2 separate regions of the Homo sapiens genome follow, and region 2 is linked to region 1. Evidence: fine-mapped expression QTL. A gene starts in region 1. The other region holds a variant in brackets. All regions are shown on one strand. Distances are between the middles of the regions.

Region 1 (5,536 bases):
TTGGCAACATTTCACAAGTGTTGACACAACTAGTTGCTGGAGCAACTGAGCACAGCCAGTGTGACCGCTCGAAGACCCTTGGAGCCTTGCACTTGGTATCCCCAGAACTTCACCCATGTGCCTCTTCCCTTTGCTGACTGTGCTTGATATCTTTTCCCTGTAATAAATCAGCCGAGTCCTCCTAGCAAATTGCTGAACTAAAGATGGCCTTGGGGACCACAGCACATTGCTCACGTTTAATTTTTAAAAACTTAGATTGGTTTATTAGGTTTGTATTACTAAAGGCACCCTATAGAGTCATTTTATATTCAGCCACACATCTCTTATCTCTCACAATTGGTCAGTTTAAAATTCATTTAAGGGGAGAGAGCAGGAGGAAGATGCAAACGAAAAGCTTTTCTTTAAGCATAATATATGAATACAGTATAAGCACATTCACCAGAAAGTGTGGCTAATCAAAGAATGCAAAACACTTAAGCCAAAATAAAATCACTTAAAAGAATCTTTCCCATCTACAATCACTAACAAACCCCAATACTGTATAACAAATGCTTTCCTTAGAATATAAATTTCACTACCCATACTGCCAAAAGTTACATCATTTGTTTCTCTGTGTTCATGTTGAAATGATTTGAGGCTCAGTTAATTGGAGCCTAAGCTTAGAGGTTTCTGGGCAAATACATTATTTCTCTGATTCTCACACTACTCATACTGTAAGACAACCATTCCTCTTAACAGCTTTCTAGAGCAGAGGGGAGAATAGATGAAGCATCCTACCACATTAAACATACAAAAGTCTTAAGGTACATATCATAATTTCGGAAACAGCAAGAAGTAAAACACATATCTTAGAATCCAATACTATAGTAATTAAAGAAGACAATGCTTTGTCTAGAATAGTACAGCCAACACAACCTTGCCCATAAGCCTTAGAGACCACCCCAATAGGAGTAAATATTTCTGTAAAATCACAGAAAAGTTTTTGAAGAGCAATTGTTTTCCATTTGAGTTGACTATAAGCATTAAATGTAAAAAGACTAAAAGATTTACAGTTCATACTTTGGTGACTACCCCACAGATAAACCCTATAAGAAAATCAATGTTGACAACCATACTATAGGCAACAGACAGACAGTCACTATATTTTAAAGGTACCCTAACCTCCTTTTCTATAATATTTGAGGACATGAAGACGTGAGGAAGCTCTTGAAGGAAAGGATTTGTATATCCCCGGAAACAAGCACGGTGTGGTACATAGGAGGTCCTCAAGAAATGTCTGCTGAATTTTTCACATTTTCATCTTTTGTCTGTATACAATTTTGGAGACAAACCACAAAGGCCTTACACAAAACAGTTACGGAAAAAACAGATGGCCTGTGCAGAGGGGATTATTTTTCTGATTGCAGCTGTCACTTCAGGATTCAAGAGTATCGTAAAAGCTAAAAGGCACTTTAGACATCAGTAGTTATTACTAAATCGGGGAGGGAAGTATGAATTTCTACATCCCCTGGGCAGTTTTACAGAATGTAGTTCAGAGTTACCAGCAAGGTTGTTAGCATGCAAATTTCTGGGCCCTCATCAAGCCCACTGGATTGCCACTTCTGATGGCTGAGGCCCATAATCTGCATTAACGTAATACGCTCTCTAGATGAATTTTAGGTCCACTAATGGAGGACAACAGTCAAACGCAGCTCAGTTAAACACACGGCTGTCAGAAATTATATATTGCTTGTAACAAGGTTGCCCAGACTGATCTAAAACATTTCTTTTTGGCTCAGAGATATGTTAATCAATCCAGAGGGAAAACTGGTTCTCCTATTGACCTAAAGGAGTGATCAGCAGTTATCTTTTTAGTCTGATTTTAGAGAGGAAACGGACTATACCTCAATGTATTTTCGTGACCATGAGGTTACAAAGCTTGATGTCCAGGAGGCAAAAACCAGTACCAGCAGAAGAAGCTGAGTAAATCAGGTTCCTCTGCTCAAAGATGAGCCCAGTGACATGAAACCCGAGGCACCAGATTTACAGCTAATGAGTGGCGAAATCAGATCCTCTTCCTCCCAGTCTATCCTTCCTGAAAACAGTGAATAACCTGGTCTCAGTAACCTGTTGGACAACCCAGCTGTCGGCCAATCGTTGCGGAATTATTTGCTGGTAAATGAATTGGAAGCATATGATGTAATGCAGCTGCCCTTCTCCCCACACACCTGAACTTCAGATTTCACAGCTGTAGAGCGTGTCTCTTAGGCCCGACATGACGCCCGGCGGCGCAGCCCACGTGGAAGCCGTGCTCGCACAGGCAGTTCTGCCACCACCGGGCGGAGGCCGGCACCACCCTCCTTGCTAAGCCTCCAAACTTTCCGTGCGCTCGTCACCGGTGTCGCGACCATTAGCAGGCCACGTGTGCGACTCTCTGTAACCAAGGCTTCCGCGACCCTACCCCTAGATCCGGGCCCCACCCACCCTGCCCCAGTCTCCGGGGAGGTGGGACGCCTGGGAGCGCGTCCCAGGTCCCGCAACCACAGCGCCGGCCACCGAGGCTTCTCGCCGACCGACAGGTCTCCCAGACCCGCACCCGAGCCCGGGTGCCTAAAGCAGCAGCGCGCGCCCCGCGGGATCGGGCACTACCCGGCCTGCCCCGGCGCTGGGATGCCCACGAGAGCGCCCCACTCACCCGGCACGGCCTGTTGCTCGCGGCCGCGAGCCCACTGCGTTGCGGCGCAGCGGCTGGAGGCGGGGCAGCGTGGGCACGCTCCGGGCCGTGCTCCAGCCCCCGCCCCGCCCCGCCACGCCGGCCCGCAAGTGGTGGCAGCCCGGAGGCCTGGCTACCCGGCGGTGTTCCGCGTTCACGCCCGGGCGTTTCTTTAGTCCATATGGAAGGAAATAAATGGCCTTTTTTTTCCTCTTTTTTTTTTTTTTTTTTTTTTTTTTTTTTTTTTTATGGTATGTGAGACAAGGTCTCACTCTCGCCCAGGCTGGAGTGCAGTGGTAGCGATCTTGGCTCACTGCAACCTTTACCTCCCGGGCTCAAGCGATCCTCCTGCCTCGGCCTCCCAAAGTGCTGGATTATAGGTGTGAGCCACCCACCCGGCTCTCCTTTTTTTTCTTTTAACTTGGGGCGGCAGGAGAGGATTTGAGAGAGCGTTTTGGTGCAACTCCGTTCCTTTTATGAATAGAGAAGCAGGCCTGAAGAGGAATACCAGCGGTGCAAGTTTAGGGAGTTGGTGGTCCGGGTTCTCCCATGGCTTTCTTATGGGCTGTGTGGCTACACAATGCTGATTTGTACAAGCCGAGTGTCATTTATATCATCTCGCTCCGGGAGAGAGAGTCAATCCTAGTTTTAAAAGATACTGGAAATTCGTTGCGACTATGGCTATAGAAACAGAAGAAATGCAGTTATCTGAGTCCTTTCAGCCTAACACTCCCTGCTTTGGAACATTTGGTTCCAGTCAGGAGGCACAAATGAGGGAGCAGGGAAATCAGTGGCGGGCCTGTGCCTTTCTTTGCTCTGTAGACAGCCAGAGGACCCAGAGGAAGTCGACATTTCGTTCCGTCAAGGTGACTGAGACCAGTGGCTGCTTCTAAGGATCAAGTGGCACATGAACAAATGGGAACAAAGTACACCCTTGTCTAGTATTTGTCTAAAACTAACAATAATAGCAAGTCTTGAATTGAGTTCTTCCTGGCTATAAGGCACCACGCTAGGTGTTTCAAATACTCCTCACTTCATCCTCACTACAACCTTGCAATTACCTCCATTTTACAGTTGAGGAAACTGAGTCAGGAGAGGTTAACTAACTTGCACAAGATCACACAGCTAGGAAGATGCAGAAACAAGATTAGAGCCAAACCAGTCAGTCAACTGTTGGTCTTTTTCACGTTTTACTAATACTCGTATAACTAGTAAGTTTCCTGGCAGGTTCCAGTTGGAAAAACTCGAGGGTAACATCAAATTTAGCCCTTACAGGGTAAAAAAGAATAGTCAACAGCAAAAATCTCTAGTTGATATGATATTGGTAATGTACTTCGCTCTTTATTTTGACTGCAAGACATCTACTCAAGATAATATAGAATAATATTGCTGTTCCCGGGATTCAGATAAAGGTAAATTCTCACACGTCCACCACTTGGAAAAGCAGTACGGTTGTAGAAAAAAGTTATAATGTCAACACAAAATACCATTTTCTCAGCATATAAAATGGCCGCAGGATGTCTAACAGAACAAAAGTACATATGGAAGTCAGCTTTGCAGGGGGAAATCATACATCTTGTGTAGGAGTTCCTCTAATGCAAAATTAGTATATCAGTATGTTCTCTCTGATTTTTTTCATTATAATTCCGATTTCTTAGCATAGCAAGCAAAAAAGTCATGATAGTTCCATTTTCAGACCTAAACAGTGCCCATCATTCCTGTGAAGAAAAGGAGAAGGGGCCAGGTGCGGTAGCTCACGCCTATAATCCCAGGACTTTGGGAGGCTGACGCCGGTGGATCACCCGAGGTCAGGAGTTCAAGACCACCCTGGCCAACATGGTGAAACCCCCGTCTCTAACAAAAATACAAAAAAATTACTCAAGCATGGTGGTGCCTGCCTGTAATCCCAGCTACTCAGGAGGCTGAGGCAGGAGAATTGGTTGAACCAGGGAGGCGGGGTTGCAGTGAGCTGAGATTGCACCACTGCACTCCAGCTTGGGCAACAAGAGCAAAACTCTGTTTCGGAAAAGAAAAAGAAAAAGAGAAGGAAAGTTAGTTTGTGCTTGGGTGACAAGAGCGAAATTCCGTCTAAAGGAAGGAAAGAAGGAAGGGGCGGGGAGGGAGGGAGGAAGGGGGAGGGAGGGAAGGAGGTAGGGGAGGAAGTAAGGGTGTGGTGGGATGGTATGGGAGTGGAGAATGGCTTGCAACCTTGCCTGAGAGGAGGAAGAGGAGGTGAGGAAGTAAGGGTGGCATGGGATGGGAGTGGAGAATGGTCTGCAACCTTGCCTGGGAGGCTTCTAGAATATATGGCCTTCCTACATGTATTGTTTCTGGTATTTTTTTTTTTTTTGGAAAAGTTCTTCCAGAGGACAAGATGCAGACTGCTATCCAGTCCCCACCATAGGTTCATTTAAAAGTCAGTTATTTTGTTTCTGTAATTAATTTTCTCATGAAAACAATGTTGTAGATGGCAGCTCTCAAGATCTGTCCGGAAAAGTCTAGAAGCCTCCAGATTTCTAATCAACAGACTAGCGCTCCTCCTCTGTAACTGAGGAACAAGATGCCAAGGAGACAGGAGAAAGAAGAGAATTCCCTTCATGTCTCGGCCATAAACCCTGAAACAGACTTGTCCATGAGCCTTGTAAAATAAGTTACATTTCTGCAGAGGTGCTTGACGTTCACACCGTTTGGATTGCTTTATTAAAAGACTCTTTTTAGAGCCAAGTTTGTCTTCCTCTTCTGTGGTCTCCTAGGCTCTTCTTCCTGTAGAGCTTTTGGTTTTTAGCCACCTCATTGTGGCTGTGCACCTGTCCAGCCTGGGCATCAGGCTGCAAAAGTGCAACC
Region 2 (5,000 bases), 31 kb after region 1:
TTCAAGCATCCCTTCCACATTCTTGTTAACCCACCAAGGTAATTTGTTATTAATACACTAAGAGTATAGTGTGAATTAGTTTGAAGGTTTTCCTTTCTGTGATGTAAGGGTTTGTCCTGAAAAGCTAAATGGACTTGTATAAAGCATGGGGAGGTTTTCTTAAAAAAGAAAAGAGATAAGCTTTAAAAGTGAGGCTGTTTATGCTTCATAATTTCACCCCCTTTCTTTACTATCACCCAACTGCAGGTCAGTCAGCAAAGACTTCATCCCTAAAATCCGGGTTCCCAAGGAAAGAACTCAATTACAATTTGCCCTTGAGGATGTCAAGATCGATACTGCAACCTGGATGTTCATCTCTGACTATCCCTACTAAACCACCACTCTCTTTTCCTCTCCATGTATGACCCATTTTATTTACCTCCCTTGAACTTTCTCCCATGTTAACATTTTATAAAGATGGGGAAAGATTTACCCAGGGAAACTCTTGCAGGAACAGCTCTTCGGTCAATCCAAAATGAAACCCATGAAAGCATCACCATCAATATGGCTGGGAAATAGGTTTGCAGCACAAAGAAGAAAACATGCCTCCTTAGCACAAAGTTGATGAAAAGCCTATTGTACCAACCTGTGGAAAAAAGCCAAAGTTTTCATTAGAGCAAGCTTCCCCTTAGAAACACTGCACTTAGTGAAATGACCTGCTTCTTTAGACTCCAAGCTCTTGGGGACACGGAATTTGACAAACTCATCTCCATTTAGTTGGGCCTGGCACTCCATCAACATTTGTTCAACCAGCTGAACTGCAGTCTGCTTAATTATTTGACTCAAAGATCCCCTTTAACTTCCAAACCCGCAGTTCAGGGATGAATAGTGGTTATCTTTTGTGGGATGGCCTCTAAAGATCTGTCTCCACAATATATTGTATTGTGGCGTTTCTGCAAGAGGGAAAGTCTTCAATACATGACTAATAATGGCATAAAAGAACCAATAAACCATTTATTAGCTATAACAAATGAAAAAAACATTTAACTGAATGAAAAGATTCAGAGTATGTACTAGGTCATTGGATTTTGACCTGAGATGGAGACAGCTGGGGATTCAAAGGAGAAAGAAAACAGCATCCATAAGCTAGTTTTACAATTTTAAAGTCTCACAAGTACCATAATTTGTGCATGATGAATCTGCAAAAAAGTAACCAACTGATGTTTCTTTGCTTCCTATTGAAATTATATAAACTCACGTTGGTAATATTAACTGCGCTAATTAAAAGCACCATTTGTGGTGACATCCACACACACATTTTGTTCAGGTTTACCTCTCCCATTGACTACAAGGAAGTTTAAAGCCAAATTTTCAGACATCTACAGGACTTCTCTGAGCACCATTCTTTAATGACCACATACACATACCAGGATATATATAATACCTTATCCTTGTTTTTCTTTTTTTTCTCATACATTTCTAATTTATATTACCTTGCTTTATTTCACAATAACTATGTGCTAATCTTGTTAAATCTTTACTAAAATAAGGCAATACATGAGGAAACATGGAAATACATCTTTTCTGAATAAGTAGCAAGATTTTTTTTCTATGATAAATGCTGTTTATTTTCAAATAACATTATTCAAAACACAGGGACTATAGGTCAAAAGTTATAAAATAAAAATCATAGGTATTGCAGAGTTGGAAAACCCTTCTGCTAGTCTCAGCAGTAATTTCTTAGAAACCCAAGACGGCAAACCTATTAGATGGATCACTTAAGTACTTAGGCATTTGGCCTAAGAAATACACCTGGCCAACCCACACTGAACTGGCAGACTCTACTCTTAGAATCCTATTCTCAATGAAATACTCATTATCTTTTTCTTCCTTACCTAGTTCTAAGCTTCTAACAGTCAGTTTATATATGTTCAGGAATACCAAACAATTTTATTACCAGGAGTAATAAAATATACATCACATAGTACATTATAAAGTTAAAATATAAATTATTTTTAAGCTTCTCATTGTCTTGTATCACCTACATCACAGCCCCAATTTATTACTGTGTACCACTGAGAGTTTCAGTGATGGCTGTAGAGTACAATAACAGCTTTCTGACCTTACAACTTTATATAACTACTGTGAGGTTAAAAGAAATAAGGAAAACCTGTGAAAGAAATTCAAAAGAAAGACAGTATTAAGGTATATAGTTTTCTGTTCATTATTAACTTGAAATAAAATTAGTTAACTGCATCCTTTCTTTATTCATAATTTTCTGAAGAACAGTTGTCCTTTTTTTTTTTTTTTGGTGGGGTGGGGGCAGGGTGGAGTAACCAGGAAGTCAAACTGTGGCTCTGTCTTG[T/C]GGTTTTAGACTAGGGGTGGTATTTTAGTTGAACCTGCAGGTCATGGGGAGTCCATTTCCCTATCAGGAAAGGTGGTGCTGCCTTGGAACGTTGTGAAGCCTTCATTTTGGGTAGTACAATAAAAAGTCTGATTCTATTTTTGATGTTTGACTGCTAAAAGCTCTCAAGCCCAACTTCTCCTTCTGCCCTACATCTGAGCAAGTTAATAAAAAGCCTAGGTCTCTTTTTGGCACCTGTGAAAAGTTCAAACCATGCATCTTGTCCTACGACAGGCAGCCTTCACCCTAGCTGCACCCCCTAGCTACCATAAAAACCCAAGCCAGTAGCCCCTTCCTGTTTTCTCAAGCCATTTTTCATTTCAGACCTGCTTGGGAGCCTGCCCATCTCTCTCTAGAAAGCCTCATTATGTAAGTAATAAATCACTTCATACCCTTTTGTCATGTGTATGGCATCATCAGTTTTGGCATCTGAACTAAATTTTGGATGGGGACGGGTACATCTGCCTCCATTAGTTTGCCATACAGTAGAAAGAAGAGGAGTTAATAACAGAGAGAAAAAGGCTAGAGAGTTGGCACCCAGGGAAATGGAGGACTGGGCCAGTATTTGGGGAGTCAGTCCCAAGACAAGAATAAAGAAGGTTTTTATACCTAGAGACAGTCACCTTCAATGGCCCTTTGAAAGTAGGCCTTAATACTCTCTATGAAAAGGATCAAAATAATGTGGATGAAAATAGGGTGATGATGACAGCTACTAACTAATATTTATTGAGCCTCTATTATATGGCAGATAACATTCTAAGGTACTTAACTATATGACATCATGTATCCTCACAACCCTATGATATAGAGAGTATTATGAAACCCATTTAAAGATGAGAAAGTTAAGGGTTAGAGAGATTAAGCAACTTGTCCAAGGTCAGGTTGCTAATAAATGATAGAGACAGGGTTTGAACTTAGGCAGTCTGTTTCTACTACTTACACATTCAGCCATTAGATTATGCTATGATAAAGAATAATTATTCAATGCATCCCTTAGGGGCAGGAGTCATTTCTTTTTTCTTTGTAAATTTATAGTGCATGATTTTGAGAATTTTGAGAAAGGGATCAGGAGGCAGAAGCCCTCATCTGCTTGTTAATATTGCCAGGTCGTGGTGATTTTTGAACAGTGGCAACGGTAGTGGTGAAGGCCAAGAAAAAAAAAAAAACACCCTGTTGTTCAGCTGTAAAATGGAAACTAAGGTCCTATAACTATATTTCTGACTCTTATAGCCAGAGTCAGATGTATAGTTTTTCTATACACCTGGGAGTGGTGGTTGTGGCTGGTAGTTGTAAGGATAGGAGTGAAGAAAACAAATCAAAAATTATTTTTGAGGAAGCTAAAATATTTAAACAGGAAACTAGTCTGAAAAAGACACTTGAGTTTGTCAGAAGATTATGTTTAATGATTCGTGGATAATGTGAGGCAGAGCTATCACATGCTCATGAACTAAAATAAGTTTCTAAATGTAATCTTTCCGAAACCTAACTAAGGGATGGTTAAATGAACCCAGATATGATTATTGATTTGATATTTGAATACAACTTCCAAAATGCCTCCCTTCGGCATTTTTCCTACCAATCTCTGTCATTAAAAAAAATGGGTATATTGTAACAAATTAAAAAATACAAGTGTTTTTTGTACCTACTTCTCAGAGGTATCTATTGTTAATCTTTCTAGGCTTTTAACACACACACACACACACACACACACACACACGATATGCACAGATATGTATATAAGCACTCATGCACTCATAAATATGTATACATACATTCTTCAATAACAAATATGGGATTTTTAAAATATATTCTTCCGTAACTTGCTTTTAAAGAATATTAATGTATTATGGATAAGTCTCCTTCTCATGTTACACAAAGCATGTACATTTGAACCTAATTCTAATTTTTTTTCATTTTTCTTAGGAACCAAAATGATATTTCTTAAAAATGTAACTACCTTTGAACGTTAAAGATTTGTAAGTTCATTTTAAAATGCAAGCATCTTTGTAAGCAGTAAGTTTTTCCATGCCAGTATTTTCCTGGCTTTAGAGAGATTCTAAAACATGACCAGAAAAAGATATAAATCAGCTAGTGTTGTAGCTGCCTGGTAGGGCTCAAAAAGTCTGACAAGCACAAATAAAATTATGGTAGAGCAAATGGAATGATTTAGTGGTAAAGTTAGAATTTTGAAGTGAAATTTAACTTCCTGTTAGGAGGACGGTTGGATATATGTTAATGGATAGTTGTGCTTCAAAAGCTAAAGAAATGCCATAATTATTGTATATTTTGCATATGTTCTGTGCATGAGACAATTCTTTTTGATTTCTATGCTTCATATATATTACATTATATTAGCATTAAATGTTGCAAATATCTATTTACAATTTATCATATGCCAAAGTTATTTTTCATTTTAGCAATAGTAAAATGAAAACACATCCTATAAATTATACTTCACATATACCATGCTTCATTGCATACATTCTTTTATTTAAATATTAATTTAATTTAGGATTAAGTAAGAACATTAAAAATCCTGATAAATATATGCCTATATTTATTCATATAGAGAAAGACAAACCGAGAAAAGGAGGAGAAGAAGGAGGAGCAGAAAAAT

What was found. PIP is the estimated chance that this variant, and not a neighbour inherited with it, causes the effect.
Region 2: its variant is fine-mapped to the expression of RIOX2 in whole blood (TOPMed, PIP above 0.99).

Annotation. Positions count from the first base shown.
Region 1 is chr3:97,969,707-97,975,242 of GRCh38, forward strand. It overlaps RIOX2 (ribosomal oxygenase 2), which reads right to left and starts at 2,725. Exons shown (of 10, transcript NM_153182.4): 1 at 2,675-2,725. It overlaps LOC124909398 (a long non-coding RNA gene), which reads left to right and starts at 2,947. Exons shown (of 2, transcript XR_007095976.1): 1 at 2,947-4,104; 2 at 5,160-5,416. RefSeq lists an enhancer at 1,940-2,199 and a silencer at 2,470-2,909.
Region 2 is chr3:98,001,143-98,006,142 of GRCh38, forward strand. GABRR3 (gamma-aminobutyric acid type A receptor subunit rho3) reads right to left here. Exons shown (of 10, transcript NM_001105580.3): 8 at 473-625. Among named protein-coding and RNA genes, the nearest start is that of RIOX2, 31 kb to the left of the region's middle. The variant T/C (reference allele first, on the strand shown) is at 2,345.